4 separate regions of the Homo sapiens genome follow, and regions 2, 3 and 4 are each linked to region 1. The links come from fine-mapping of genetic effects on gene expression. A gene starts in region 1. Each other region holds a variant in brackets. All regions are shown on one strand. Distances are from middle to middle. Region 1 holds the start of RPS6KA3 (ribosomal protein S6 kinase A3). Region 2 has its middle 130 kb from the start of RPS6KA3. Region 3 has its middle 51 kb from the start of RPS6KA3. Region 4 has its middle 150 kb from the start of RPS6KA3.

Region 1 (5,151 bases):
GGCAACACTGGCTCTGTTTGACATACTTTATGCCAGGATAGCAAGAAAATTCTTTGAAAACAGCAAATTGTGGAATCCTATCTGTCAAGTTCTGGAAAACATGATAGTAACTGAAATAACAAGGCTTTACCAAATGAGACCTCTTATAATACTCTATTTGTTTCTGGAAAATAGATGACCTCTAACTACTGGCTTATTTATACCCCGAATTTTTCCACAAAAGATTTGGAACAGCTACCCTGATATAAAACGAAGCACATGAATTGTATCCACCTGGCTTTGAATTATGGCTCTGCCATTTACTATTTATCATCTTTGTACCTTTTAAATTCTGAGATTTGGTTTCCTAATCTATAACAATGGGGACCATAATCCTACCCTGCTGGGTCACAGGAAGGATAAAATGAAATAGTAATGTAGCACAGTACCTGGCATACAGTTGGTGCTAAATAAATATGTTTTGTCCTTCCTTATCCAAATGCATTCCAGATAGAAAAAGGATAAGGTGGAATTCTAAACGATATTGTTTTCCTATCACACTGATACATGCCAAGCAGAAATGTGGACTGATCTTGAGTTGCAATTGTTAATGTTTGTATGTAAAAGTCAGGCTCAAAGCAAATTTAATTTCTTTCCACAAGTTCAGTACTTTGCGAACATTTTATTAACCTTTTAGCTATATTATTTAATGCAAAAAATTTTCTGGGGAAAAATATGACGAGCTCTTGCATACTGTTTTTCACACTACCCATCTAAAGGATTATTAAACATCATAAATTTGGCTTTTTAATAAAATATTTATAGTATTAGTCTGGTTAACAATTTTAAATAAAGTTCTTGTGATTCTGCCAGTCTTAAAAACATGATTTCCTTTCTTTCTTTCCTTTTCTTTCAACATATATCAATGTCTTTTCCATTGAAGAGCAGCATTTAGTTCAGGTTTTACAAGTATGATCCAAGTCGCAAAATACTAAGCACCAATCATAAGCACTATTACAACTCTGCGTGCGTTAAGGAGAACAAGCAAAATTGTTATACAGCAGCGGAGGTGACTGGGGGAAAAAGTGAAAAGCGATTTGAACTGATCCCCCGCCCTCTCCATTATACCGGAGAATGCAAGTGTCCCGCATCTCAAGATTAAACTGAGCCTCGGTTTTACTGACGTAACCAGTAACCCTATCTACTTCTCACACTGCGGAGGCCGGCAGGGCAGCGGCTGCCGCCAAGCACACCACTCATCAGAGCCTGCCCCGTTCCACCCCCGCGTTTCAGTCATGCTTTCCAGAAATGGGGTCACTCACTCAGTAACTATTACACACACGCAGCCTATCATCCTGTAATCCCCTAAAGTCCGCTGCGGGGAGAGAAGGCAGCAAAAAGTCAAGAAGGAAGAATCACAGACGCGCCACCATCAGGAATTGATTTTCCACTCCGGAGAGGAGCGGTGATACCTTGGAACGGGTCTTGTCTGGATTATTTTCGCAGACCCCGAGTTGTTCTGGGATAGGGGCGGTTCAGGAAAGCTCGGTGTAGTGATGCGCCCGGGGAAATTCTGTTTTGCCCTGTTTGGGTATATTGTTTGGGTTTTGGGCACTAGGATGGGTGACTCAGGGACGGTCACCAGATCCCGGGCGAGGAAAACCAGAAAGCCTTTTACGGCGGCCGCTGATCTCCTTGAATATCACCCTCTCACCTCCATGGACAGGAAACTCAAGTTAAACTCACAGGGACGGGGGTCTAGCTCTGCGACCTCAGAAACGGAGGGGGTAGGGGACCTTAGGCTTCCGCTTTCTTCTTTGCAGCAGCAGAAACCGCTGCGGCAGACGAGGGGGAGGCAAAACCCTGCACCCCCTACCCGAAACCCCCACAGGTCGCCGCCGCCCGTGCCCCGCGCGCCGGTCTCCCCGCAGCAGCCCCTCCCTCGGCTGGACTCGAGAGTCCCTGCTCCCCGGTGAACCCGATCCCTACCCCTCCCTCATCTCCCAAAGTCGCCAAGGTCCGGGAAAGCCCCCGACCCGGCTGGGCCAAACTTCCCAACTCCCCGCCGGCCCCCGCTCCGCCTCCCGCTTCCCCCACGCAAAGTTGATTAAAATTGGCTTCTTGCAAAGCCCCAGCGCCCACTCCAAACCCCACGCGCCACCACACTGGCAGCCCCCCGAGCGAGGGAAGGAGGTGAGGGTGAGGATGGAAGGAACAGACAGACCGGCCAATAGACCCACCCCAACAACCCAAACCAAAACCCTGAGCCCGGGGGAAAGACGCGAGCGGGATCAGAACGGGCCGAGTGGCCAGCTCCGGGGAGCGAAGCGAGCCGGCGGGGGCGCGAGGAGGAGATGCGCCGGCCCCGGCCGCCCTGCTGCACTCACCTCAGCGCTGTCGGACGGGCTCTCCACAGCCATCTTCTGCCACGGGTCCGCCAGCTGCGCCAGCGGCATCTTCCCCCCCGGCCCGCCGCCTTCACCGCCTCCTCCCTCCCCGCCCGCCCCACGGCCGGCCCCGCTCCGTCGCCGCCCGAGCCCCACGGCAGCGGCGGCGGCGGCGGCGGCGGCGGCAGCGGCAGCGGCAGCGGCAGCAGCAGCAGCAGCGGCGGCGGCCCCAGAGAGGGCTCGACGCCGACGCCGACCGCCCGAAAGCCGCGCGCCTGGCCAGAGACGCCCGCGCGCTGAGCGAGAGCCTCGCGCCTCCGCTGGGCACCGGGTCTCGCCCCTTTCTTCCTCTCCTCCTTCCGCCGCCGGGACTACGGCTCCGCCCCCCCCGCCGGTTCCCGCGCCCGCTCCCAGCAGAACAGCGACCGCCGCGCGCTCCCCCACTTCCGCTCACAACATGGCGCCTAAGCGATACCTGTCTCTCAAAGCGAGGCTCGGCCGCCGCCACCACCGCCGCGCGCACCCAGGGGCTGGGCTAGTGGAAGACACGCCCCCGGCCGCTGCGCTCCGCTCCTCCCTCTTCCCACCCCCCTCCTTCTGCGCCCCAACCTCAGCTTCTGGGCCTCGCCTACTTTCAGGAAGGGCGAGCCCAACAGATCTGGGGGCGTCGGCGGGAGGCGGGGGAAAGAAATGGGAAAGGCAGGAGGGGCGAAGGCTGGGAGCCTTTCACCGCCAAGGGTCCAAGGAGGTCGGAGGCTCCTTGGGAATGAGGGAGAACAGTGGTCCCCGCCCAGCTGGGGAGGGAGGTGGGCAAAGTACCGGGGGCGCAGTCCCGAGCCAAGGACCCGGGGAGGGGTGCGGAGTGTCTTTTCGGCTTGTCTCCTCCGGGGGTGCGTGCGTGCGGACGCGCCTAGTCTCTGGGCGCATCCCGTAATGGCCCAAGACCCTCCCTCTTCAGGGTCACATGCTGGGAAATCACCTGCCCCCCATCTCCCCCGACGGAGGCAAGGGAGGCTTCGTGCCTAGGAGCCTCCTGGGGGCTCGGCTCCCGGTTTGATTCAAGTCTTTTCAAGTTGACGCTCTTTTGTTAAATTGTGGCTATTTGGGATTAATTCCTCTTGTATTAGTCGCTTCCCCCGCACCGCCCCCAGCCCAAATTCTCCTCCCCAAGTGCGCAGAGCTCTCGGCCTTCAGCTGCGACCCTGGAACCGCTGCCCCCCGCCCCACGTCTGCTACCTAAATCTTCAAGAGGGGAAAACAGGGAGGTTCCTTAAGGCTGTCCCTCTCGGTAGAGGTTGGAGAATTATTTAAAAATATCTTGTAGGCAGGAGCGCGGGGTTCCTGCTCCTCTGTTGACTTTAAATAAGAGATTAGATTTAAAAATCAGGCTGGCCGTGGGCGGAGGAGGAGGAGGAGGGGGACAGAGGGAGGGGAGGGGTTCTGACTCCTCCTCCTGCCCAAGATGGGGAAGCCCTGGATTAAGGAAACCCAATGCCCCGACGGCGACGGAGCCCCACAGGACGGCGAGAGCTTTGGGGGGAAGGCCTGGGCGTCCGGGGTGCGTCCCAAGAGGACTCGACCCTGTGTTCACTGCGCCAGGAGCCGCTGCGCGCTAAGTGCGCCCGGGCAGAAATGTGTAAAAGTCGCAGGGCTGAGTGGAAAGCTACTGCAGCCCCTGGCTAGTCGCCCAGCGAGGGGAAGAGAAAAAGCAAAGGGAGATCTCCGAGCCGGCCTGTCCCTTCAAACCCTCAGGCCGTGGCCCAGGCATCCCGGTCTTCCCACGCCCAGCGACCACGGCGCGTCCGCTGCTGCGCTCCCAGCGCACGCCTATTAACAGCTTCCTTTCATCCTCCCGGGACCCAGACACCTGGAGAACCCTCGCCTGCCTCCCTAAGCAGGTGTGAGGATGAGATTAGAGCCCCAAACCCAGCCGGCCAGGTCTGCGCGGGCGGTGCGAGGTTTCTCGCTGGGCCTGCGAGAGGCAGGTGTTGGGCTCTTTCTGCTGCCTTCGCCAGCGCGCCCCTTGGCACAGGCTCGAGGCCGGGGAACCTCGTGGCCATTTAGGGAGGCTCCAACTGTTTAGGGAGCCTGAGAAGGCGGCAGGAAGTCCTCGTTGCGCGCCTTCTCCCGAAGCTTTGGACTCAGGGGGACCGCTCAGGTTGGACAACATCTGGGCAGACTCAACGTGGTCTGGGGAAGAAGGCGAATGGGGCCACTTGGCTCTTGCCTTTGTCACTTCCCTTCACATGCTATATTCAGGTGTTGCAAATCCAACCTGGGCCCAAACTCAGCTAATTTGGCAGCACCTTCTCTGTGTAATTCCCGACGGTAAAACGTGCTTGCAGAAGTTTGGAGGATAAGGAGTTGTGTACTATTTTGCATTTATGTACAAAATGCTTTATTCATTTACATTGCAGAGTCACATGACCACTCCTTATAGCGAAAAGAAGTTCGTTAATTCGGTTGGCTTAAAGTAAATTAGCTCCCCCTACCCTTTGATCAATTATTTCAGTTAACATTCTTGCATTAGTAAAAACATACATAGTTGAAGAGAGACCGTTATGTGGCTAACACTGTTCAGTGCTAATTACCCCCACGCAAAGAATGAATATTTTAAAATAAAGCAAATTGTATGCCATTTTCAGTATCAACTTTTATTCATCTCTGTTAACCTTGAGAACCAGAGGAATAACTTTTAAAACAGAGTTACCTGATCTGTAAAAGTAATGTGAGCGGTGGTCACGTTTCAGTGAATTAAGCATTACATGAACTGTTAATAATGGGT
Region 2 (5,130 bases), 130 kb after region 1:
GGTAAACTTGTGTCATGGGGGTTTGTTGCACAGAATATTTCATCAACCAGGTACTAAGCCTAGTAGCCATTCATTATTTTTTCTGCTCCTCTCCCTCCTCTTACCCTCTACCCTTCTTCGCCAAGTAGGCCCCAGTGTGCATTCTTCTCCTCTATGTGTCCATGTGTTCTCACAATTTAGCTCCCACTTACAAGTGAGAACGTGTGGTATTCGGTTTTCTGTTCCTGTGTTAGTTTGCTAAGGATGATGGCCTCCAGCTCCATCCATGTTCCCGCAGAAGACATGATCTCATTCTTTTTTAATGACTGTATAGTATTCCATGGTGTATAGGTACCATATTTTCTTTATCCAGTCTATTATTGATGGGCATTTAGGTTGATTCCATGTCTTTGCTATTGTGAATAGTGCCACAGTGAACATATGTGTGCATGTGTCTTTATGTAGAACAATTTATATTATTTTGGGTATACACCTGGTAATGGGGTTGCTGGGTCAAATGGTAGTTCTGTTTTTAGCCCTTTGAGGAATTGCCACACTGCTTTCCAGAATGGTTGAGCTAATTTACACTCCCACCAGCAGTGTATAAGTGATCCCTTTTCTCTGCAGCCTCACCAGCATCTGTTATCTTTTGACTTTTTAATAATAGTCTTTCTGACTGGTGTGAGATGGTATTTCATTGTGATTTTGATTTGCATTTTTCTTTTCTTTTTTTTTTTTTTTTTTGAGACGAAGTCTCGCTCTGTCACCCTGGCTGGAGTGCAGTGGCGCGATCTCAGCTCACTGCAAGCTCTGCCTCCCGGGTTCACGCCATTCTCCTGCCTCAGCCTCCAGAGTAGCTGGGACTACAGGCGCCCACCACTGCGTCCGGCTAATTTTTTGTATATATATATATTTTTTTAGTAGAGACGTGGTTTCACAGTGGTCTCGATCTCCTGACTTCGTGATCTGCCCGCCTCGGCCTCCCAAAGTGCTGGGATTACAGGCGTGAGCCACCGTGCCCAGCCTGATTTGCATTTTTCTAACGATCAGTGACGTTGAGCTTTTTTTTCATGTTTGTCGGCTGCATGTATGTCTTCTTTTGAGAAGTGTCTGTTTATGTCCTTTGCCTGCTTTTTAACGAGGTTGTGTGCTTTTTTCTTGTAAATTTGTTTAAGTTCCTTATAGATGCTGGATATTAGACTTTTGTCAGATGCATAATTTGCAAAAATTTTCTCCCATTCTGTAGGTTGTCTGTTTATTCTGTTGATAGTTTCCCTTGCCATGCAGAAGCTCTTTAGTTTAATTAGGTCCTAACAATAAAAAATTGGAAATTGAAATAAACAATATCATTTACAATATTGTCAAAAACGTGAAATATTTAGGTATAAATGTAACAAAATATGTGCAAGATTTTAATGCTGAACATTAGAAAACATTGCTGAGAAAAGCTAAAGACCTAAATAAATGGAGTGATATAGCACATTTATGGATTGGAAGACTCAATATTAAGATGCCAATTCCCTCTGATCTATAGATTTAATGCAATCCCAATAAAAATCCCTGCAGAGTGGTGGAAGTTTGGAAGTTTGGAAGTTGATTCAAAAATTTGTATTCATGTGCAAAAATACAGCATCAGCTTTGTTAGATAAAATAATGCCGGAAAACATTTATTGAATGTTTACTGTGTGCCAGGTATTGCTTCACATACTTTGAGTGTATTGAGAAATCTAGTTTTCACAACAATCCTCTGAGGAAAGAAAACAGTCTTATCCCAGTTTATTGATATACAAACAGAGCACACAGAGTGAGAGTAACTTGTTTGAGTTTATCAGCTTTTGGTTTGGAGAGTTTGCCATTGAACCCAGGCAATTGGAATCCAGAGTTCAGCCTTTTAATTACCTGTAATCACCAGTTTCTGTATCAACTAGCTATTGTTGCAACCAACCACAAAAATCTCAGTGGCAAATGATAATAAGCTTTAAGTTTCCACATGTCTGCAGGTTGGTGGGGGCAGCTTTACTGATTTCAGCTAGACTCAGCTGGGTAGCTCCAACTGTAGGGTGAGTTGAGGGTTTCTTCATATGTCTCTCATCCTTCTTGAATTATTGGCTTAATCATGGTCTGTTCTTCTCATGGCGATAAAAGAAGCAAGAAAGAGGGACTCCCATCAGAACTAAGGCCCACATCAATCTGTCTCCTATTTTGGGCTTTAATTGCCCAAGTCAAGGGAGGGAAAAGTAGAAAACGGAAGGTCTCTTTTGCAAGGCAAGGAAGTCCCGCCCTGATGTGCTCATAATGGGGAAAAGAATGCAAGGCCTAGGAGCTCCTTCCATAGGCCGGCTGGATCAAGAAAGTCAGATGAAGAGGGGGGGCATTTCTGCTCACTGACATTTTTGCCACCTGAGGAAAGATGAATGGATGTCAGACTTCTGTCTGTATTCATGAAATGTCTCATGGAGGAGGGGAGTGTGGGGTGAAAGCTTCTGTCTACCCCTTCTACCGCTTCTGAGGAAGTGTTAGGAGAAGTTACTATGTAAGGGCCAAGGAGGCACAGAAAGAGAATAACCTTTTCTCGTATAGAAGGCAAGGACTGGGTTCTTTACATCTTAGTATCCCTCTTCTGACATGGAAGTTTCCTAAGAAGTGTAGTCGAACAATAAGTGAAATTCGCATTTTCCATTCTTGAAGAAGAACCTCCAAAATTTCCCTCTCTGAAACCTTACTTCCTGGGGGTTCCACTTGGCCTGGCAACAGAAACCGTGTTTGCTTTCTGAAGAGTATTTTGGCCATCTGTTTTGGTTGCCCTGAGTTACT[C/G]CAATATAGCCGCGAAGAAGCTTGTCCTGCTGAGGTTTATCACTGATTGCAAAACTAACCCTGGCTAGCAAAACTGGCAAATTCTGCTTAGTGAGTGTGTGTTTTTGTTGTGTGTATGATGTGTGTGTGTGTGTGTGTGTGTGTGTGTGTGTGTGTGTGTGTGTTTTGAGCAGAGTTTCCATAGAAAAAAAGAAAGGCAAGATGTTGCCCAGCTGTATTGTCCTGGCAGGACTTCTTCACATAATTCTCCTGGAAGTTTCTGCAATGTTTCTTTCCCTTCCTGTCTCCCTGTTTCTATAGAACTGTGAAGATTTACTGAGTCTCTCCAGCTGTAGCCTAAATTCCTCACTGAGACAGTTTCAGACTGCCTATTCTGAGGTGGGAAGGTGTAGGATGGGAGGTGGGGAGGCTTGTGCCCTTATTATATAAACTGATCATTATTGGAAGAAAAAAAGCTGAATCCCTCAGAAATGTTAAGACGTCTGCTTTGACCACACCCTCAGAAGCTAGCACTATTGCTCTGGGTTAAGGGCAATAGCATTTCTTGTAAGCCAGTTTTTAACCTCTTTTGAACCCTCAGCGGCACAGAATTTCAGGGCTTGACTACAGTGGATTCTATCTGAAATGGCCTTCAAGAATTGTTCCACAGAAATACATGGACAGAAATAGGTGTTCTTTGGTCAAATTCAGTGTGGGGAATTTTCAGTCTATATGACTCTTCCAAAAAAATAGTCCAGAAATATGTAAAATGATTTGAATTGTTCCCATTTAGTTCAAATTCTACTACTCTGTGAGCTCCTTAAGATCAAGAAATGTGCCTTGTGGTAATTCAGCACTTAACAGACACCTGGCAGAGATAATAAATGTGAGTGAATGAATGCATGAAATAATGAAATATCACATCCTCAATAAAGTTTTTTCCTCCCTGAAATAACTAGCATTTCTGGGAATTTTGTCATTAAAAAAGTTCCGCTTCAATTGCCAACTACTATATCATTTATAAAATTATTACTGCACAGAAATTATCTATTTCTGTGTAACAAACTACCCCCAAATTTAGTAGCTTCAAAATAATAACCATTTATTATTTCTCATGATTTTCAGGGTTGACTGGACTCAGCTGAGTAATTCTTCTGCTTCATGTGATATTGACTGGGCTGTAATCAACTAGGGGCTTGACCGGGCTGGGCATCACAATGGCTCACTAACATGGCAGATGGCTTCCAAAAGGGAGTGTCTTAAGTGTGACTATTTGAAGAGAGAGGAAACAAAAGTGGAAGCTGCCCAGTCCTCTTACAGGGTAGGCAAAGAATTGGCTCAGTACTATTTCTGCTGCCTTCTGTTGGTAAGCAGCCACGGAGCCATCCCTGATTCAAGGGGAGGGGAAATAAACTCCACCTTTTGAGGGGAGAGTGACAAATAATTTCTAGCCATCTTTAATTCACCCTATTGTCTATGTAATAATTGACATGGAGAATAAAACAATGGTAAGAGGCGAGAGTAAAGTAGGATGAGTGAAAAGATTGCATCAGGGGAGCGAACTAGTTAATTAGATTGGATGTTGGTAAACAATTAATCTGAATTAATTGAAAGCCGAGCCTGACATGAATATTGTAAAAGAGATTGCTGAAAAATCAATAAACATCTTTGAAGAATTATGGAAAGCAGGGATGTCCCAGAAATCTGGAGACAGGTAAATGTCATTGCCATTTTCAAAAATGTAAAGAAAGTGGAATCACTGCAAAATTTGATTTTGATTCCAAGCAAGATGCTAAAAGATATTATTAGAATGACTAGGTTCAGCTGGATGTGTTAGAAATCAAAATAACAAAAACATAAAATATGGAAGATTATTTTTCTCTCTGTGTAAATAAAACATAGATCACAAGGCTGATATGGTGGCTTCACGAAGTCATTGAGGACTCATGTTCTTTTTAGCTCATTATTCCACCAGCCCTATTTCTCACGGTCCAAAGTGATGGCTAGAGTTCCAATGAATGCATCTACATTCCAGAATTTTTTTTAAAAGTGGAGAAGGGGAAATCATCCATCTAATCTTTTAAAGAGGTTTTCTGGATGCTGCCGTACAACCTCTGCTTATATCTCATTGACTAAACCTTAATTTTGGGTGGCCATGTGCTACCCTAAGAGTTGGAAGTTTTATTACAGAGAAGGGCAGGATGGATTTTAGGGTAGGCAACTAATAGTATCTGCTCCAGATGCTTTGTCCCTTCTGGTAGAATCCAGCATGCATTTTCTAAGAAATCATGGCAGAAATGCTAAGCTTTTAAGGCTGGAAATGTAGTTCCCCCTCCTCTCTGGGTTTTAGTAAATGGC
Region 3 (5,128 bases), 51 kb after region 1:
GGTAGGGCTGGATCAGAGTGGAGACAAAGAAAGGGGTGGCTGTGAGTGGCAGGGAAGAAAGCCTCAGAGGCAAGGAAGCCCAGGGCATGTTCAGGAAATGAAGAAATCTGAAGTAGCTGAAGTCAGGGGAGGAGAGTCTCAGGGGAGGAGAGTCACAGGAGAGTGAAAGATGAGTGTCTGTCAAAGCAGGTTGGGGCCTGCTCAGAAAAGGCCTGGACAACTTTGCAAGTAGTGTGGCCTTCACTCCATGCATAGGGATGAGGTTTTAAAGCAGAAAAGTGATTTTGAAGGGTGAATTTTTTTCCTTCCTAAATTAATATTAAAAAATACGTTATAAAAGTCTGAAAAGCCAGGGTACATAAAGGATAAAAACCTGATATTCACCACTATCACTTTCATATGTCAACTCTGAGATACTTTTTTTTTTTAAAAAAATTGAGATATAACTCAAATGCCATCAAATTAACCATTTCAGAGTATACAATTCCGTGGGTTTTAGTATATTCACAAGGTTATGGAACCATCGCCATTAATTCCAGAATATTTACATCACCTCAAAAAGAAACCTCATACCCATTAGCAGTCACTCCTCATTCTCCCTCCCCTGGCAACCACGAATCTACTTTATGTCCCATGGGTTTTTCCAGAAATACTTTCCTATGTGTATATTTATAAACACACACACACGTTTCTCTCCCCCTTCCCACATGCAAGTTGAATTGTCACATACTGCTTAATAAGCTGTGTTGACTCTGATATCAGGAATATATCAGATCCATTTGTGAAAAATTAGTCTGGGTGTCAGGGCCAAGGACGGATTGGAAAAAAAGAGGTTGGAGGCAGTGAGACTGTTTAGCAATGCCTGCAGTAGGGGAGGTTACGTGGGCCTGAACTAGGATGCCAGCAGGGTAGTGGATGCTGTGGTGAGCCTCTAAGATCCCCACTCCAGGAATGAGACACTCATTACCCCAGTGGCAGGAAATGTTGGTGACTGATGGCTTTCAGTGGAATTTCTTTCTGGGACTTGCTCTCAGCTGAAGAGACCTTACTAGCTCCAAATCACAGACTTTCTCTGGAGCAGCCCACATCTAATAATTCGTCAATGGTGCGAGGGGGTGTTACAAAGGCCCAGGCACTGTTCCCAATTTGGAAAATCAGCAAAGGTCCATCCTGGCTCCAGAGCTCCCCTTAGGGTCAACTGATACTTTTATTATGACTGTGTTGTAGCCCAACTCCTCCCTCTGCCTACTCCTGCTGCCCTTACTGCCCCATAGGTGCTGTTCCTGAGAGCATTCCTAATCAAATTCCTGTATTTAAATCTCTATCTCAGAGTCTGTTTTCCAGGGCACACAACCTGTGACAAGCAATGAGGATGGAAAAGAAGCTGGCGTATGTGGATGTCTTTCTGAAGCAATTGACTAGATGGAGCTTGGTGACTGATTAGCTATATAGGGTGGAAGGGGTGGAAGAGCTAAAGAGAAGAAACAAAACACACACACACACATGATTTACATATGTACTTATATATATGTAATATACACACACACATATACATCATATACATGTAAATATATCCTTAGGCACTTGCTCAGTGTCTACTTTGTGCCTGAAACAGTTCTGGCAGCTGAAGATGCAAGATGGATTAGATCCGGTTCTTTTATTTAGAGAATCCACAGTGTTTTAGGGCAGAGAGTAAACAAGTAATTCCAATACAATTCGTTGAGCATTATGTTAAACTATAGGGAAAGGTGATGAGAAAATATTAAGGGAGTGAAGGCATTGCCAAGGTTTTAAGCTGGGGTGTTTTGAAAGATGGTAAATCCATCATGTGACATGGAGAATGCAGATGAGAGAGAATGTAATTAGAAAATAAAAATCGAGGTTAATATGTTCCCTGAAAAGTTAGAAATATGGGTTTGGAACTCCTGAGAGAGGTCATGAATAGAAATATATATTTAGGTGGTGTCTATATAGAAATGATAGCTAGTGCCTCAGGAGTGGATGAGATTGTCCAGGGAGATCAAAGAAGATGAAAACTTGAGAAAGATCTACAGCAGAGCTGATGTCTGAAATCTGCCCACCCTATGCCAACACCCATGGCAGACGTAGCTAAATTACCACACAGCCTCAGAATCCTTCTCAATGCATGACTTCAGGCAGCTATTACCAATAGATCCACTTACCATTTCTGGTTTCTTCTCAAAGTCTAGGTGTAGTGACCAGGAACAATGGCGGGCCTCCAGGGAAAAGTGAGCTGCTTGGTTATTAGGAGTGCAGAGAGCACCCAGGAAGGTAGGAGAAGTACTAGGAGAGCAGAGGATCCCAGAAGGAAGAAAAGTGTTTCAAGAAGAAGGAAATAATAACATTAGTCAAATGACTAAGTTGAGGACTTGAGGAGACAATGGAATTTGAAGTGGAGGGCAGTAGTGACCTTACAGAGAACAGGTCCACTAAAGTGGTTTTGAGAGAAGTGAAATGACAAAAGTTTGAGAATGGGAAGTATTTCCAAGTGCTCATCTATAAATGGACTGCTTGAGCCCATGTTGGCAAGCTTGTTGAAAATGCATTTCCAGGACTCACCCCAGAGCCATGACCTCAGGCTGTTCTCTGCCCCCCAAGGAACACTTTGATCAGGGTTATCTGCTACCGGTGGGTGCTCA[C/G]TGTAGCAGATGCTCTTAGTGTCCCTTTTACATGCATTCAGCACTCACTATTCAGTATATACTGCTTGCTTCACAAGGAAGCACATGTGATGTCTCTGCCCGAGGACTTTCCCTGGCCACTGGAGCATGCTTGACCTGCTGCCAGAAATGCCAGAGTTGATTTCCCAGGGATTAGCCCACAACCAGCGAAGGACATGAGTTGTTGGAGAAATCAATCAGCTTTTTCACGTCTCAGGTGGAACAACTTGGGGCTTGTTTTATACAGAAGTTTTATCCCAGAAGTCTCCAGTAGGATTGAGCCTGTGGCGCCCAGAGTAGGCTCATGAACACACTGTATTGGCTTCCTTCTTTTTTTTGACTTACTTCCCTATTCTCTTTGCATTTCCTGAGGTCACCTCTCACCTAAGCTATTAGTACCCATATCCCTGTCTCAGAGCTGGCTTTTGGGGGAACCCAAAACTATGATACTTACCGTCTTATTTCTTCTTCCTGGGCACACGGAACAACTACATATTCCAGTGGTAGTACGTATTGCTGTCGGTTGAGCCTATGTGACTGAAGTCATGGGCAGAGTGATCGATGTCACCTTCAGGCCTGGCCACAAAACTCCTGGTGTGATAATCCCTCTCAATCTTTCTTTCCTATGGTGATTTCAGAGGCCATGGGTTTAAGATGGCAGCCTCACAAGATAGCAGCTGATTTCTGAGTCACTAATTGGAAGACACCTACTAAGGAGAGCTGCCCCACCTGTACCAGATTTTGACATTAATGAATGAGAAATAAACCTTTACTATGTTAAATTGCTGAGACTTTTTTTTGTTACAGCAGCTACCATTAATTACCCTCATTAATACACCTGCCCTGTCAGCCTTCCTTCACCCAGTTCTCCAAAATTACTGCTCTTTATCCTCCTTTAAACGTTTCCATTCCCTCAGTGTGACTGACACAGTCATGGGTTTAACTGATTAAAGTGTACTTAATTGTAAACAATAACTACCAGATTTGCTTCTGAAAGATAGTTGTGTTTTCAAATGGATTCCTGATTGGTAGGATCTATGAAGGAGATGTTTCCAAATATTGGATCCTTCTTGGTGTCCTTCCACCATCATTGACACAGCCCACTCCCAGCTTGAACTGTGTTGTCTAGAAGCAGAAGAAAGAGGGGTCAGCACTTCTAAGCTGTTGCTGACCTCTGGCCTCTGCAATCAACTCCAGACTCCTTAACCTGGTATTTCCATGTGTCCGCAGTTGGCCCCAACTAACATTCCTACCCTGATCCTCCCCACCCCACTGCCAGTGAAACCTCTTAAATCATACTGCTCGCAACAGGGTGTGCTTTCCTACCTTGCCAGCTTGGGTCTCACTGTGCTCTCCACTTGGAGTGCTCTTTCTGCTCTTCTGCTCCTTTCCAAACCCAGTCCCTGCTCAAAGGCCTCACTCAACTTCCACCTCCTCCCTAAAGCCCTGAAATTCCATTTCGTCTTCCCTTTGCCGCTACTACTCATTTGGTCTTCAGCATTTGCTGCTTATCATGATTTCTGTCTATTTATGTGTTTGTGTCCTCTCTTCTAAAGTAGAAATGAACTACTTAAAGAAAAAATTATGCCTATTTCTCTCTTCAATCTCTACAGCATTTTAGCATAGTGCTGGAGACATGATTACTGAAGATAGATGGATGAATATGGATATAACAATTGAACTTGTTAAATATCACAAATGCAAAGTCTTGTGCAGACATCCTTTTTTTTTTTTTTTTTTTTTTTTTTTTTTCCTGAGACAGGGTCTCACTCTGTCACCCAGTCTGGGGTGCTGTGGTGTGATCATAGCTCACTGCAACCTCGAACTCCCGGGCTCAAGCAATCCTCCCACCTCAGTCTCCCAAGTAGCTGGGAATTCAGGTGCTCACTGTTACACCTGGCTAATTAAAAAAATTTTTAGTAGTGATGTGGTCTCTCTGTGTTGCCCAGGATGGTCTCGAACTCCTGGACTCAAGTGATACTCCTGCCTCAGCCTCTCAAAGCAGTGGGATTACTTTCAGTGGGTATAAGCCACCACACTTGGCCCAGACATGATTAAAAAAAACACTTTCATTCAGAAATAATTTTAAACTTACAGAGAAGTTGCAAGAATAAAAATGGTACAAATATCATCTACATATGTTTTACCTAGATTCACTTACTGTACACATTTTACCTCATTTACTTTAGATCTGCCTGTATATCTTCTCTACACACACACACACACACACACACACACACACACACACACACAAACACACACAATGCTTTTCTGATGCATTTGAGAGTAAGTTACATACATTATGGGTCTTTAATACTTCAGTGAGTATTTCCTAAGAATAATCTGTTACCTAATCACAATAGAGTTATCAACTTCCATTTGATTAATATTGATACAACACATTTATTTAATCTTTTGTTCTCATTCCAATTTTGTCAATTGACCCAATA
Region 4 (5,143 bases), 150 kb after region 1:
AATGTTTTTTCTTTTTGCTACATATGATCTCCTCTATTAAGTAAATAGCTTAAATTGTATTCGGGTTACCTTGGAATACGTAGTATAGTAGCATTTTACCTGTCGACTGAAAACAATTTGCAGAGGAAAGCTGATCTAATGCTACCTCCTTGCTTAATTTGTGGCTTCTTACAGAATATAGGGTAAACTCATTTTCTTATATCCATGTCTCTCCACTACCTGTCCCCAGGAAACCTCTCCAATCCTATCATTACCAACCATTTGCTATTATGAAAATGATCTCTGAGTATGCTTTATTAATTTCTGCCTCCCTCTCTCCCTCTTCCTTCCTCCCTCCCTCCCTCATTCTCTCTTTCCTCCCCGTCCATCTCTTTCCTTTTTCCCTCCCTCCCTCTCTACTGGCCTCTTTCTAGTGCATACTCATTAAGCACCTACAGTATGGTGGACTTTACACTTAGCATGGTAGGAAAGATGAAATCGACAATGCAGCCCCCAGCACTGCAGGGGATGTGGACAGAAGCAACAGTACTTACAGTATCTATAATGGTGAATGAATTACCCAACTTTGCTTGAGGAGGTCAGAGAAGTTTTCAGAGAAATGATGACTTGTAAGCTGAGTTTTGAAGGATAATTGGGGCTCACCAGGTAGACAAAGCCAATACATTTATGGTTCACAGAAGCAATGGTACAAATGGAAGAGCAGAGGCAAGAAACACCACATCTGTGCTACCTCCCTTCTCCCTTCCCTCTCTGCCTTCCTTGCACACATATTTAGCGGGTGATCATGTGGCAAGCATCGCCCTAGGTCTCCAGAGACAACACTAGACAAGAAGGACAATATTCCTGTCCTGGGGAAACTTATCTGCTAGTTGTGAAATGACACATGATTTGCTGAGACTAACAGCTCCTATATCCCTAAACACTTCAAAAAATGTTTGGGACGTGTTGCATTCTGAATGCTGCCTCCTGGAGTTTCACGGTGCACAATTTCACAGTCGAGGCCCTGGGAAGTCCTTCATCAAGAAATCTGTTATCTTCATTTACTGTGGTTCTCAAGTGCATTTAACCAGGGGAACTTTGTTTTAAGTAGCAATTAATACCACACAAAGCCAGTTTTCTAAAGGAGTCACTGCAGGAAATGTTTGAGTGTTCGTTTCTTCCAATCTCATTGCCTATTGTATCAGTTGCGTGTTTTCATAATAATGCTGCATAAAAACAGCCACAGAACCTCCGTGGCATACAACGATAAGAACTCAGTGCTTGCACCCCTGGGGAGGTTGGTTAGGTGGCTCTGCTGACCTTGGCTGAGCTTGATCCTATGTCTGGGGTCTGGCTGGCTATTATAGCTGGGACAACTGGGATGAATTGGCTGCGCCCTGCTTGCCTGGGCATACACCTGGGCATATTTTCCTGGTGGTGACTGAGGCATAAAAAGGCTAGTGAAACTATGTAAGCAATTTTTCAGATCCCTGCTTTGTGAAGAATTTTAGCTTCCTAATGTCCAAAGCAAGCTACATGGCTGAGTCCAGAATTAAAGTGGCCGGGGATGGGGCACTGCAAAGTTTCATGGCAAAGAGTGAAGATACAGAGAACAGGGAGGAATTGGGGCCACTTTAGTACTTGACCGCATCTACCTAAGACCCCGACTCAGGTATCACCTCTTCCATGAAGCCTTTTCTGACTTTCTCAGACCCATATCCATTTCTTTATCTGAGACTTCCCACTGCACGTCCAGTACCTTACTGCCAAGTTAGGAGCTCTCTTAAACTCCCAGCTTGCTTCACATTGGCTCCCCTACATAGATGACAAATTCCTCGAGGGTAGAGACCATATTTTTTCTGTGTGTGTGTGGTATTTTTTTTTTTCCTTTTGAGACGGACTCTCACTCTGTTGCCCAGGCTGGAGTGCAGTGATGTGATCTTGGCTCACTGCAACCTCCACCTCCTGGCTCAAGCGATTCTCCTGCCTCAGCCTCCCGAGTAGCTGGGATTACAGGTGCCTGCCACCACACTGGGCCAATTTTTGTATTTTTAGTAGAGACAGGGTTTTGCCGTGTTGGCCAGGCTGGTCTCGAACTCCTGGCATCAAGTGATCTACCTGCCTCCCAAAGTGCTGGGATTACAGGCGTGAGCCATCGGGGGAAGACCATATTTCTTTTTTTTTTTCTTCTAAAAAAAGAAAAGGGATACACGTGCAGAACGTGCAGGTTTGTTACATAGGTATACATGTGTCATGGTGGTTTGCTGCATCTATTGACCCATTCTCTAAGCTCCCTCCCCTTACCCCAACCCCCAACAGGCCCTGGTGTGTATTGTTCCCCTCACTGTGTTCATGTGTCCTCAATGTTTAACTCCCACTTATGAGTGAGAACATGTGGTATTTGATTCTCTGTTCTTGTGTTAGTTTGCTGAGGATGATGGCCTCCAGCTTCATCCATGTCCCTGCAAAGGACATGATCTCATTCCTTTTTGTGGCTGCATAGTATTCCATGGTGTATATGTGCCACATTTTCCTTACCCAGTCTATCATTGATGGGGATTTGGGTTGGTTCCATGTAAATAGTGCTGTCTCCTGTGGGCTTCCCCTGAGGCTGGGCCCCTGTACTCCCGATGCCACTCAGATTTGTGCCTACAGGGCCAAGATCAGCTCGGCGAGGTTGGGGGTTGGTGGGGGGGGACTGGCACTTGTGTCAGAGAAATGCCAGAAAAGCTCTGCCCAAGAGCCGGAAGTTGCGTCTGTGTGTATGTACTTCTTTGCTTTTGTTGTGTTCTCAGCCCTCGCAGGGACTCTAACCACTTCCCCCTGAACTTCAGGCCGTACGGGAACCTCACCTCTCTTGCGGTAGTGGTCCTTCTAAATTCGGGCCACT[C/T]GACTCATTCCTTCCTGTCTCATTTTGTTCTTCCTGCCTCTTCTGTGCATGGGGGCTACATTACTGATGCTGCGGTTGCCCAGTTGGAGAGGAGAGCAGTAGTATAAGAAAAGCACCCTGGACCTGTGCCCCTCAAAGCGAGGTCCCTGGGCCAGCAGCATCGGCTTTACCTGAGAACTGCTTAGAAATGCAGACTCTCTGGTGCCACCCCAGACCTCCTGGATCTGCCTCTGTATTTTAACTGGACCCCCAGAGGTGTCGTCAAGCCTGAGAAACACCAGCATCTGGTTACAGCTCGCCAGCCCTTTAGCTCTGTAACCTGGCAAGTCTCTTCGCTTCTCTGTCGGACACACTGATTTCCCCTGTGTCAAATTAGATGCATTTAATTATGTGGTAATTCAGATTACTTTGTTGCTTCATCAGAGAAGTACAAAGGTGTGGGAAGTGGCAGAAAATCATATTGTGCACAAAATCAAGAACTTTTAGAGCTGGAAAGAACTTGATTGACCACCTCCTCCAGTTCCCTCTTGTTTTATAGCCACTTAAGGTCAAGCCTTGCTAAGGAGAATGTCAGTCTCCTCCATCCTTCCAGGAGAAACACAGCCCCTGCAGTCAGAAGAGACAGGAAGGCCACATGAGACAGGAGGGAATGAGCCGACTGGCCTGAATTTAGGAGGACCACTACCATAAGAGAGGTGATGTTCCCATATGGCTTGAAGTTTAGGGGGAAGTGGATCCCTGATATGAAAATTGTGGTCCCTGAACCAGTAGCATTACAGTCACCTGGTAAGAGAGGCAGTGGGTGGTGTGCGAGAAATGCGGATTCTCAGGCCAAGGCTCATACCTACTTGATAAATAGAGTCAAAATCTCTATATACCAAGAACCCCGGATGATCTGTAAGCACAGCCAAGTTTGGGGAGCGCTGGGCTAAATGACGCAGTCACTGGGAATGCTTGAAGACAAATGAAGCCCAGAATAGAAGCGTCATTTCCCAAGTAGTAAGAGTGCTGGCCCTGGAAGCAAAGAAATGTAGATTTGAATTTCAACTTGCCACTTCTAGACTGTGGTTTTGAGAAAGGTACTTAACCCTCTCTGAGCTTCAGATTCCTCATCTGTAAAAAGTGTGAAGCAATTAGCATGATGTTTGGCACTCAGGAAGTGCTTAGTAAATGTTAACACAACAGGGCTTCATGGCTGAAAGCACAGACTTTGCAGCCAGAGTGCCTGGGTTGATAATCCTGGCTCTGCCACTTCCTAGCTGGGTGACCTTCAGCAAGTCACTTAACCTCTCTGAGCTCCAGGTTACTCATCTGCAAAGTGGAACTCACAATAGGGTTGTGATGACAATTTCATGGGTTAATATCTGTAAAGCATTTAGATACAGTCTGGCACATAGCAAGAGCTAAGTGTCTATTAAAAATTATATTGCTATTTTAGAGACTTGATGAAAGGAAGAGAGCCAGGCATACATGTTTTTTTTTTTTTTTCAAGCTTCAATAAAAGAGGAGTCTATTTCTCCCTCATGTAAAGAGAGTCAGGAAGTGCGCAGCCCTGTGTTGGCTTTCAGGCATCCACAGGACCTAGATGCCTCCATTTGACTCTGCCATGCTCATCCTGTGGATTCTGTCCTTATGGTGGAGAGAGGCTTGTGCAGCTCTCACTCCTGTACCCAGGTACAAGGCCAGCAGCAGAATGAAACAGCTGAGGAGGGTCAAGGGGTTCTGGATTAGTGGTGTATTGCTGTGTAATAAATTACCTCAACACTTGAGGGCTGGATATGATAAACACTATCTCACAGTGTCTGTGGCTCATCATCGGGAGCGGCTTAGCTGTGTGGTCGTGGCTCATGCTCTTACAGGCTGCAATCAAGGTGTCGGCAGGGGCTGCAGTCATCTCTAGCTCAACTGGGGAGGATCCACTTCTGAGCTCACTTCTGCAGTTGTTGGCAGGCCTCACAAGGTCCCCTTTCAAGCTTACTTATGTAGGCCCCTCCAGAGGGCTGCCTTATGACATGGCAGCTGGCTTCTCCCATTAGAAATTTAGCCCACACTCAAGCGGAGGGGGTTGTACGAGGGCCTAAATCCCAGGAGGTGGCATCATAGGGGCTGCATAGCACAGGCCTCTTCCCAGTGACTCAGCTTCCCTCAAGCAGCCTTCCTGGAATTCCCACACAACACTTTTGTTTATAGCTCACAGGTTGGAACTTAGTCACGTGGCCATACCAAGTTGCAAGAGAGGCCGAGGAATAGAATCTTTTAGCTAGAGGCATTTTC

Evidence for each region. PIP is the estimated chance that this variant, and not a neighbour inherited with it, causes the effect.
Region 2: its variant is fine-mapped to the expression of RPS6KA3 in whole blood (TOPMed, PIP above 0.99).
Region 3: its variant is fine-mapped to the expression of RPS6KA3 in whole blood (TOPMed, PIP 0.98).
Region 4: its variant is fine-mapped to the expression of RPS6KA3 in whole blood (TOPMed, PIP above 0.99).

The regions. Positions count from the first base shown.
Region 1 is chrX:20,264,198-20,269,348 of GRCh38, forward strand. RPS6KA3 (ribosomal protein S6 kinase A3) reads right to left here and starts at 2,712. Exons shown (of 22, transcript NM_004586.3): 1 at 2,367-2,712. The coding sequence starts at 2,435. RefSeq lists an enhancer at 943-992 and silencers at 2,173-2,432, 2,553-2,772, 3,194-3,488.
Region 2 is chrX:20,392,402-20,397,531 of GRCh38, forward strand. No RefSeq gene overlaps it. Among named protein-coding and RNA genes, the nearest start is that of RPS6KA3, 130 kb to the left of the region's middle. The variant C/G (reference allele first, on the strand shown) is at 2,794.
Region 3 is chrX:20,315,290-20,320,417 of GRCh38, forward strand. No RefSeq gene overlaps it. Among named protein-coding and RNA genes, the nearest start is that of RPS6KA3, 51 kb to the left of the region's middle. The variant C/G (reference allele first, on the strand shown) is at 2,661.
Region 4 is chrX:20,410,270-20,415,412 of GRCh38, forward strand. No RefSeq gene overlaps it. Among named protein-coding and RNA genes, the nearest start is that of RPS6KA3, 150 kb to the left of the region's middle. The variant C/T (reference allele first, on the strand shown) is at 2,870.